Homo sapiens: one gene and its partner. The protein of the gene in region 2 interacts with the protein of the main gene of each other region in a pairwise test. Each region holds a gene or a part of one and is shown on either strand. Other genes may lie near its edges. The genes, in order: FBF1 and FBXL12.

Evidence for each region.
Region 1: the proteins of FBXL12 (region 2) and FBF1 interact in a two-hybrid assay, tested with the Homo sapiens proteins (one large-scale study listed by BioGRID and IntAct).

Annotation. Positions count from the first base shown.
Region 1 is NC_000017.11:75,909,834-75,913,648, forward strand, and holds part of FBF1 (fas-binding factor 1), read right to left. Parts: intron 2,475-3,815; coding exon 2,359-2,474; intron 974-2,358; coding exon 890-973; 3' UTR 1-889. UniProt on the Homo sapiens protein: Keratin-binding protein required for epithelial cell polarization. Involved in apical junction complex (AJC) assembly via its interaction with PARD3. Required for ciliogenesis.
Region 2 is NC_000019.10:9,812,719-9,816,188, forward strand, and holds part of FBXL12 (F-box/LRR-repeat protein 12), read right to left. Parts: exon of another isoform or gene 1,453-3,470; coding exon of another isoform or gene 1,420-1,452; intron 557-1,419; exon of another isoform or gene 513-556; intron 1-512. UniProt on the Homo sapiens protein: Substrate-recognition component of the SCF (SKP1-CUL1-F-box protein)-type E3 ubiquitin ligase complex.

The DNA of each region.
Region 1 (3,815 bases), on a different chromosome or scaffold from region 2:
AACTCCGATGAGCCATGGCAAAAGCAGTTTTTTTAAGCTTAGTCAAGTTGAAGCAGCGGGAGTGGAGGAGGATCAGAGAAACCTCTGTAGTTGTGATTGGTTCCTTGTCGCCTCCACTGCGTACCCGCTGAGCTGGGCTTTGGGCAGGTGAGCAGCACAGAGGCTTCCCTCCTCGTCCCTCCCCACACCCCACCATCGCCACAGCTCCCTCCGCCGCCGGTGGGGCACCCAGATGGGGAGGAAGCTGAGGAGGCCACTGTTCACCCAAACTGGTTGGTCCTTCGGGCAATGCTGGGAATAGGGTGGGGGCTCTGGGCAAGCCCAGGAGGAGGAGGGCCTGGCTGAGTTCCAGGAACATCTCACACCACAAGGGAGGATCTAGCTGGTGCCCTCCCTGTACTGTCAGGAGGCCAGAGGGCCCTTCTCCAGCTCATCAGGGAGGGAACTGCTCTGGCAGGGAGTAGGGAAGGCTGTTTGTGGCATCCCTCAAGAAAGCTCCTGCCTCAGAAGAGGCCCAGGCAAAAAGAGCCCACAACAGTCTACCTGTGGAGCAGGGGGAGCCCACAGAGCCCAGGGGGAGCCCACAGAGCCCAGTGAGAGCTGGGGGTCCTTGCTGCCAACTCAGACCCTCAGATCCAAGCCAATGGCTTTGGGGCAGGGCAGCCAAAGCCATGGTAAGATAGCCTACACCACAGAGCCCCAGAGGCAGGGGCTGCCCCGGGCTGGCACATTTGGAAAGGATGCACTTGCACCCTGTCCACGGAAGAGCTGTCATCAGGCCTCAAGCATCTCAGAATCCTCCCCAGGCACTGCCTCCATGGAGGCAGCCGGAGGAACAGGACAGTTCTGGGGTCCGAACCCTCTGTTGGGGAATCGGCTGGGGTCCCACTCAGGCTGAATGAGATGTCAAATTGTAGGACCCTTTCTTCAGGGTCTCCAGGAAGAACTGTTCATTCTCCAAGAAGTCACGGTCCTGCAAGGCAGGTTTGGATGGGCGGTCACCTTCCCTGAGCTGAGAGGGAGGTGGAGCCCTGGATGCTAGCTGAGCCAGCCGTCACTGAGGCCCCTCCCCACATCGTCCCTGACTCTGCCTGGCTCTGGGAGTCAGCAGGGGCCATGAAAGAGCCCAGGTATGGAGTGAGACAGACCACAGTCTCAATCCTGGCAAGGTTACTTGTTTGCTGTGGAACTTACGAGCACATGACTTCATGTCTCTAAGCCTCAGTTTCCTTGTCTGTAAACATTCCTTGTAGCCCTTCCTTGCAGGGCTGTGTGAGGGTAAAAGCTTAAAAAATACACAAAGCAGGCCAGGCACAGTGGCTCATGCCTGTAATCCTAGCTAATCCGCAGGCCAAGGGGGTAGGATCACTTGAGCCCAGGACTTTGAGACCAGCCGAGGCAACATCGTGAGACCCCATTTCTAAATATAAATAAATAAGTAAAATATAAACAAAGCCTTCGGCATTGAGGTTGGCACACAGGAAATGCTCCATAATGACAACTGTTATCATTATAGTTTTGTTTTGTTTAGTTTGAGACAAGTGCCTTGCTCTGTCACCCAAGCTGAAGTGCAGTGGTGTGAACACACCTGTAGCCTCGACCAGCTGGGCTCAAGCAATCCTCCCACCTCAGCCTCCCAAGTAGCTGGGACTATAGATATGCCCCACCATGCCCAGCTAATTTTTAAATTTTTAATATTTATTTTTTTGAGACAGAGTCTCGCTCTGTTGCCTGGAGTGCAGTGGCACCGTTGTGGCTCACTGCAGCCTCGACCTCCCGGGCTTAAGTGATCCTCTTACCTCAGCCTCCGGAGTAGCTGGGAGTACAGGTGTATGCCACCACGCTCAGCTATTTTTTTGTGGAGACGAGGTCTCACTATGTTGCCCAAGCTGGCCACGAACTCCTGGGCTCAAGTAATCCTCCCACCATAGCCTCCCAAAGTGCTGGGATTACAGGTGTGAGCCACGCACCTGGTCCTCTTTTTTTAGTTTTTCATTTTGTAGAGACGGTGTCTCAACATATTGCCCAGGCTGGTCTCAAACTCCTGGGCTCAAGTGATCCTCCTGCTTCAACCTCCCAAAGTGTTGGGATTACAGGTGTGAGCCACTGTGCCCAGCCTGTTATCATTATTGCTATAGGTTATCATGAGGTTTAACTGAGATGACATATGCAAATTGCTTTGCACAGAACCTGGCCTAGTGTGGAAGTCTGAGCATTGGCTCACTAAGCAAACTGCAGTTTTACTCCCCAGGAGCTGGGGTCACCCCTCCCCAGGGCTACCATGTGCTCCTCCCTGCCTCTGCCCTGAGCTGGAAGGACTCGTGAACACAAGGATCCCCAAGGCCAGGAGAGACTCACCTGCTCTGCCATGTGCCTCAGCAGTGCCAGCCTGGCATGGAGGTGCAAGGGGCTGGGGTCCAGGCCAGTTGGCGGCTGGCTGCACCAACGGGTGGTGGGAGCAGGAGGCATGAGGGCTGAAAAGGCCAAGGAGGAAGTCAGGGACCAAAGTGTTGGTGGAAATACCGGGCGGTCACAGCTTGTTCCTGCAGAGCTGCTCCCCCCGCCAGTGGGTGGACCCTGGCCATATACTCAGGGTGCAATGGCACTAACTCTCAGAAGCCTCTGGCAAATGCATACCTGCTCCTACCTGGAAAGACCATTTATAGGAATTTATTCCAGTGAAATAATCAGGCAAAGGTACAAACACATATGTAGGAAGATGTCCACTGGGTAGTCTTTCTCTTTAAGACAACAAATCACTCAGCACAGAGCAGCCTCACAGTGGAAAACTGTGCTGATTGGGAATTGACTAAATGTTTAATGACTGATCTGAAAACCTGTTCCACGTGTACATTACTGAGTAAAAAAAGTAAAGTTATTGAAAAACACATACAATCCTAATTTTGTTTTTAAAAACATGTACCAGGCTGGGCGCGTTGGCTCATGCCTGTAATCCCAGCACTTTGGGAGGCCAAGGCGGGTGGATCACCTGAGGTCAGGAGTTCAAGACCAGCCCGGCCAACATGGCAAAACCCTATCTCTGCTAAAAATACAGAATTAGCCAGGCATGGTAGCACATGCCTGTAATCGCAGCTACTTGGGAGGCTGAGGTAAGAGAATCGCGTGAACTCAGGAGGTGGAGGTTGCACTAAGCCGAGATCATGCCACTGCACTCCAGCCTGGGTGACAAGAGTGAAACTCCATCTCAAAAAAGAAAAGAAAAAAAAAGTACCAGAGTGGAACATTATGCACCAAAATGTTAAAAGTGAAAAGTGGTTCTCTCAAGACTCAGGAGTGGCGTTGAGGGTGACTTTTTTTTTTTTTTTTTTTTTTTAAACGGAGTCTTGCTCTGTCCCCTAGGCTGGAGTGCAGTGGCACAATCTCGGCTTACTGCAACCTCCACTTCTCGGGTTCGAGTGACTCTCCTGCCTCAGCCTCCTGAGTAGCTGGGATTACGGGCACCTGCCACCACACCCGGCTAATTTTGTATTTTTAGCAGAGACGGGGTTTCATTATGTTGGCCAGGCTGGTCTTGAACTCCTGACCTCAGATGATCCGCCTGCCTCGGCTGCCGAAAGTGCTGAGATTATAGGCGTGAGCCACCACGCCCAGCCTGACAATGACTTTTTTTATTTCCTTTTTTTTTCCTGAGTCCAGAGTTACAAAAAGGTGACATTTTTCATAATAGTGTTCCTCTATTTCTGATTTATCTAAAATTAACACACATTATTTGTGTAAAAAAGAAATAAGGCGACTATAAAACCCAGCTGGCCGCCTTAACTGGAGCGGCTGGAGGAGGGCCTGCCCACTCCTAG
Region 2 (3,470 bases):
TTAAAAGCCGAAAACTACCCAGAGTAAATTAGGTCTATGTTAAAAAAAAAAAAAAAAAAACAACAAATGAAAAGGCTGGGCACGGTGGCTCACACCTGTAATCCCAGCACTTTGGGAGGCCAAGGCGGGCAGATCACCTGAGGTCAGGAGTTCAAGACCAGCCTGACCAACATGGAGAAACCCCGTCTCTACTAAAAATACAAAATTAGCCAGGTGTGGTGGTGCACGCCTGTAATCCCAGCTACTTGGGAGGCTGAGGCAGGAGAATCACTTGAACCTGGGAAGCAGAGGCTGCGATGAGCCAAGATCGTGCCGTTGCACCAGCCTGGGCAACAAGAGCGAAACTCCATGTCAAAAAAAAAAATATATCAAAGCCTGGTAGAGTGGAAGCTGCAAAAATCAACCCTGGGAAGTTAGACTTAGTAGAAAATAAAAAATATATATAATTGATAGCACTGGGCATTTCATTCTAAGTACAGTTTATCTTAAAAAGAAAAAGTTAGCATGCTTACATCTGCCTTTTATTGCTGGATTTCTCTACTTGGCATCATAGGGCCTAATGGAAAAAGGAAAATTGTCTAATAACATATTCTTTATGTGTGCTTACAAAGGTGTTTCTTTTCTTTTCTTTTTTTTTGAGACGGAGTTTTGCTTGTTGCCCAGGCTGGAGTGCAATGGCACGATCTCAGTCACCGCAACCTCCGCCTCCTGGGTTCAAGCGATTCTCGTGCCTTAGCCTCCTGAGTAGCTGGGATTACAGGCATGTGCCACCATGCCCGGCTAATTTTTTTTTTTTTTTTTGAGACAGAGTCTCGCTCTGTTGCCCAGGCTGGAGTGCAGTAGCGCAATCTCGGCTCACTGCAATCTCCACCTCCCAGGTTCAAGCAATTCTCCTGCTTCAGCCTCCCAAGTAGCTGGTACTACAGGCGTATGCCACCATGCCCGGCTATGTTTTTTTTGTATTTTTAGTAGAGACGCGGTTTCACCATGTTAGCCAGGATGGTCTCAATCTCCTGACCTCGTGATCCAACCACCTTGGCCTCCCAAGGTGCTGGGATTACAGGCATGAGCCACGCGCCTGGCCTTAATTTTGTATTTTTAGTAGAGACAGGGTTTCTCCATGTAGGTCAGGCTGGTCTCAAACACCCGACCTCAAGTGATCTGTCCACCTCGGCCTCCCAAAGTGCTGGGATTACAGGCATGAGCCACTGCACCCGGCCAAAAAGGTGTTTCTACATCAAACTCTTCCATTCACTGAAGAAAATAGCTTATCATCAATCCTTCAGAAAGCATGCTTACATTTGCCTTTTATACATGCATATATATACCCATGTAATACAAACTGTATTAGTCTATTTTCATGCTGCTGATAAAAACATACCTGAGACTGGGAAGAAAAAGAGGTTTAATTGGACTTACAGTTCCACATGGCTGGGGAGGCCTCAAAATCATGGCAGGAGGTGAAAGGCACTTCTTACATGGCGGCAGCAAGAGAAAATGAGAAAGAAGCCCGGGCGCAGTGGCTCATGCCCATAATCCCAGCACTTTGGAAGGCCGATGCGGGCGGATCACGAGGTCAGGAGATTGAGACCATCCTGGCCAACATGACAAAACCCCGTTTCTACTAAAATACAAAAAAAAATTAGCCGAGTGTGGTGGTGCATGCCTGTAGTCCCAGCTACTAAGGAGGCTGAGGTAGGAGAATCGCTTGAACACGGGAGGCAGAGGTTCCAGTGAACTGAGATCGCACCACTGCACTCCAGCCTGGTGGCAGAACAAGACTCCGACTCAAAGAAAAATAAATAAATTAATTTAAAAAATACAAAAAATTAGCTCAGTGTGGTGGCACGTGCCTGTAGTCCCAGCTTCTCAGGAGGCTGAGGCAGGGGAATCACTTGAACCCAGGAGGCAGAGGTTGCAGTGAGCTGAGATCATACCACTGCACTCCAGCCTGGCAACAGAGCAAGACTCCATCTCAAAAAAAAAAAAAAAAAAAAAATTAAGAAAACGAGAACAAAGCAAAAATGGAAACCCCTGATAAACCCATCAGATCTCTTGAGATTTATTCACTATCACGAGAATAGCATGGGAAAGACCAGCCCCCAAGATTCAATTATTTCCCCTGGGTCCCTCTCACAACACATGGGAATTCTGGGAAATACAATTCAAGTTGAGATTTGGGTGGGGACACAGCCAAACTATATCATTCCACCCCGGCCCCTCCAAGTCTCATGTCTTCACATTTCACAACCAATCATGGCTTCCCAACAGTCTTCCAAAGTCTTAACTCATTTCAGCATTAACCCAAAAGTCCACAGTCCAAAGTCTCATCTGAGACAAGGCAAGTCCCTTCCACCTATGAGCCTATAAAATCAAAAGCTAGCTAGTTACTTCCTAGATACAATGTGAGTACAGGTATTGGGTAAATGCAGCCATTCCAAATGGGAGAAATTGGCCAAAACAAAGGGGTTACAGGGCCCATGCAAGTCTGAAATCCAGTGGGGCAGTCAAATTTTAAAGCTCCAAAATTATCTCCTTTGATTCCAGGTCTCACAACCAGGTCACACTGATGCAAGAGGTGGGTTCCCATGGTCTTGGCCAGCTCCGCCCCTTGTGGCTTTACAGGGTACAGCCTCCCTCCCAGCTGCTTTCACAGGCTGGTGTTGAGTGTCTGAAGCTTTTCCAGGTGCATGGTGCAAGCTGTGGGTGGATCTACCATTCTGGAGTCTGGAGAACAGTGGCCCTCTTCTCACAGCTCCACTAGGCAGTGACCCAATAGGGACTCTGTGTGGGGGCTCTGACCCCACATTTCCCTTCCACACTGCCCTAGCAGAGGTTCTCCATGAGGGCCCCACCCCTGTAGCAAACTTTTGCCTGGACATCCAGGCATTTCCACACATCTTCTGAAATCTAGGCAGAGGTTCCTAAACTTCAATTCTTTTTTTTTTTTTTTGAGATGGAGTTTCGCTCTTGTCACCCAGGCTGGAATGCAATGGCACGATCTTGAGTCACTGCAACCTTTGCCTCCCGGGTTCAAGCGATTCTCCTGCCTCAGCCTCCCGAGTAGCTGGGATTACAAGCATGCGCCACCACGCATTTGTTGTATTTTTAGTAGAGATGGGGTTTCACCATGTTGGCCAGGCTGGTCTTGAACTCCTGACCTCAAGTGATCCGCCTGCCTTGGCCTCCCAAAGTGCTGGGATTATAGGCGTGAGCCACTGTGCCTGGCCCTGAACCTCAGTTCTTGGCTTCTGTGCACCAGCAGGCTCAAGACCATGTGGAAGCTGCCAAGACTTGGGGCTTCCACCCTCTGAAGCCACAGCCCGAGTTATACGTTGGCCCCTTTCAGCTACAGCTGGAGCAGCTAGGGCACAGGACACCAAGTCCCAGGGTGAACATAGCACAGGGACCCTGGGCCCCCAGGAAACCACTTTTTCCTCCTGGGCTTCCAGGCCTGAGATGGGAGGGGC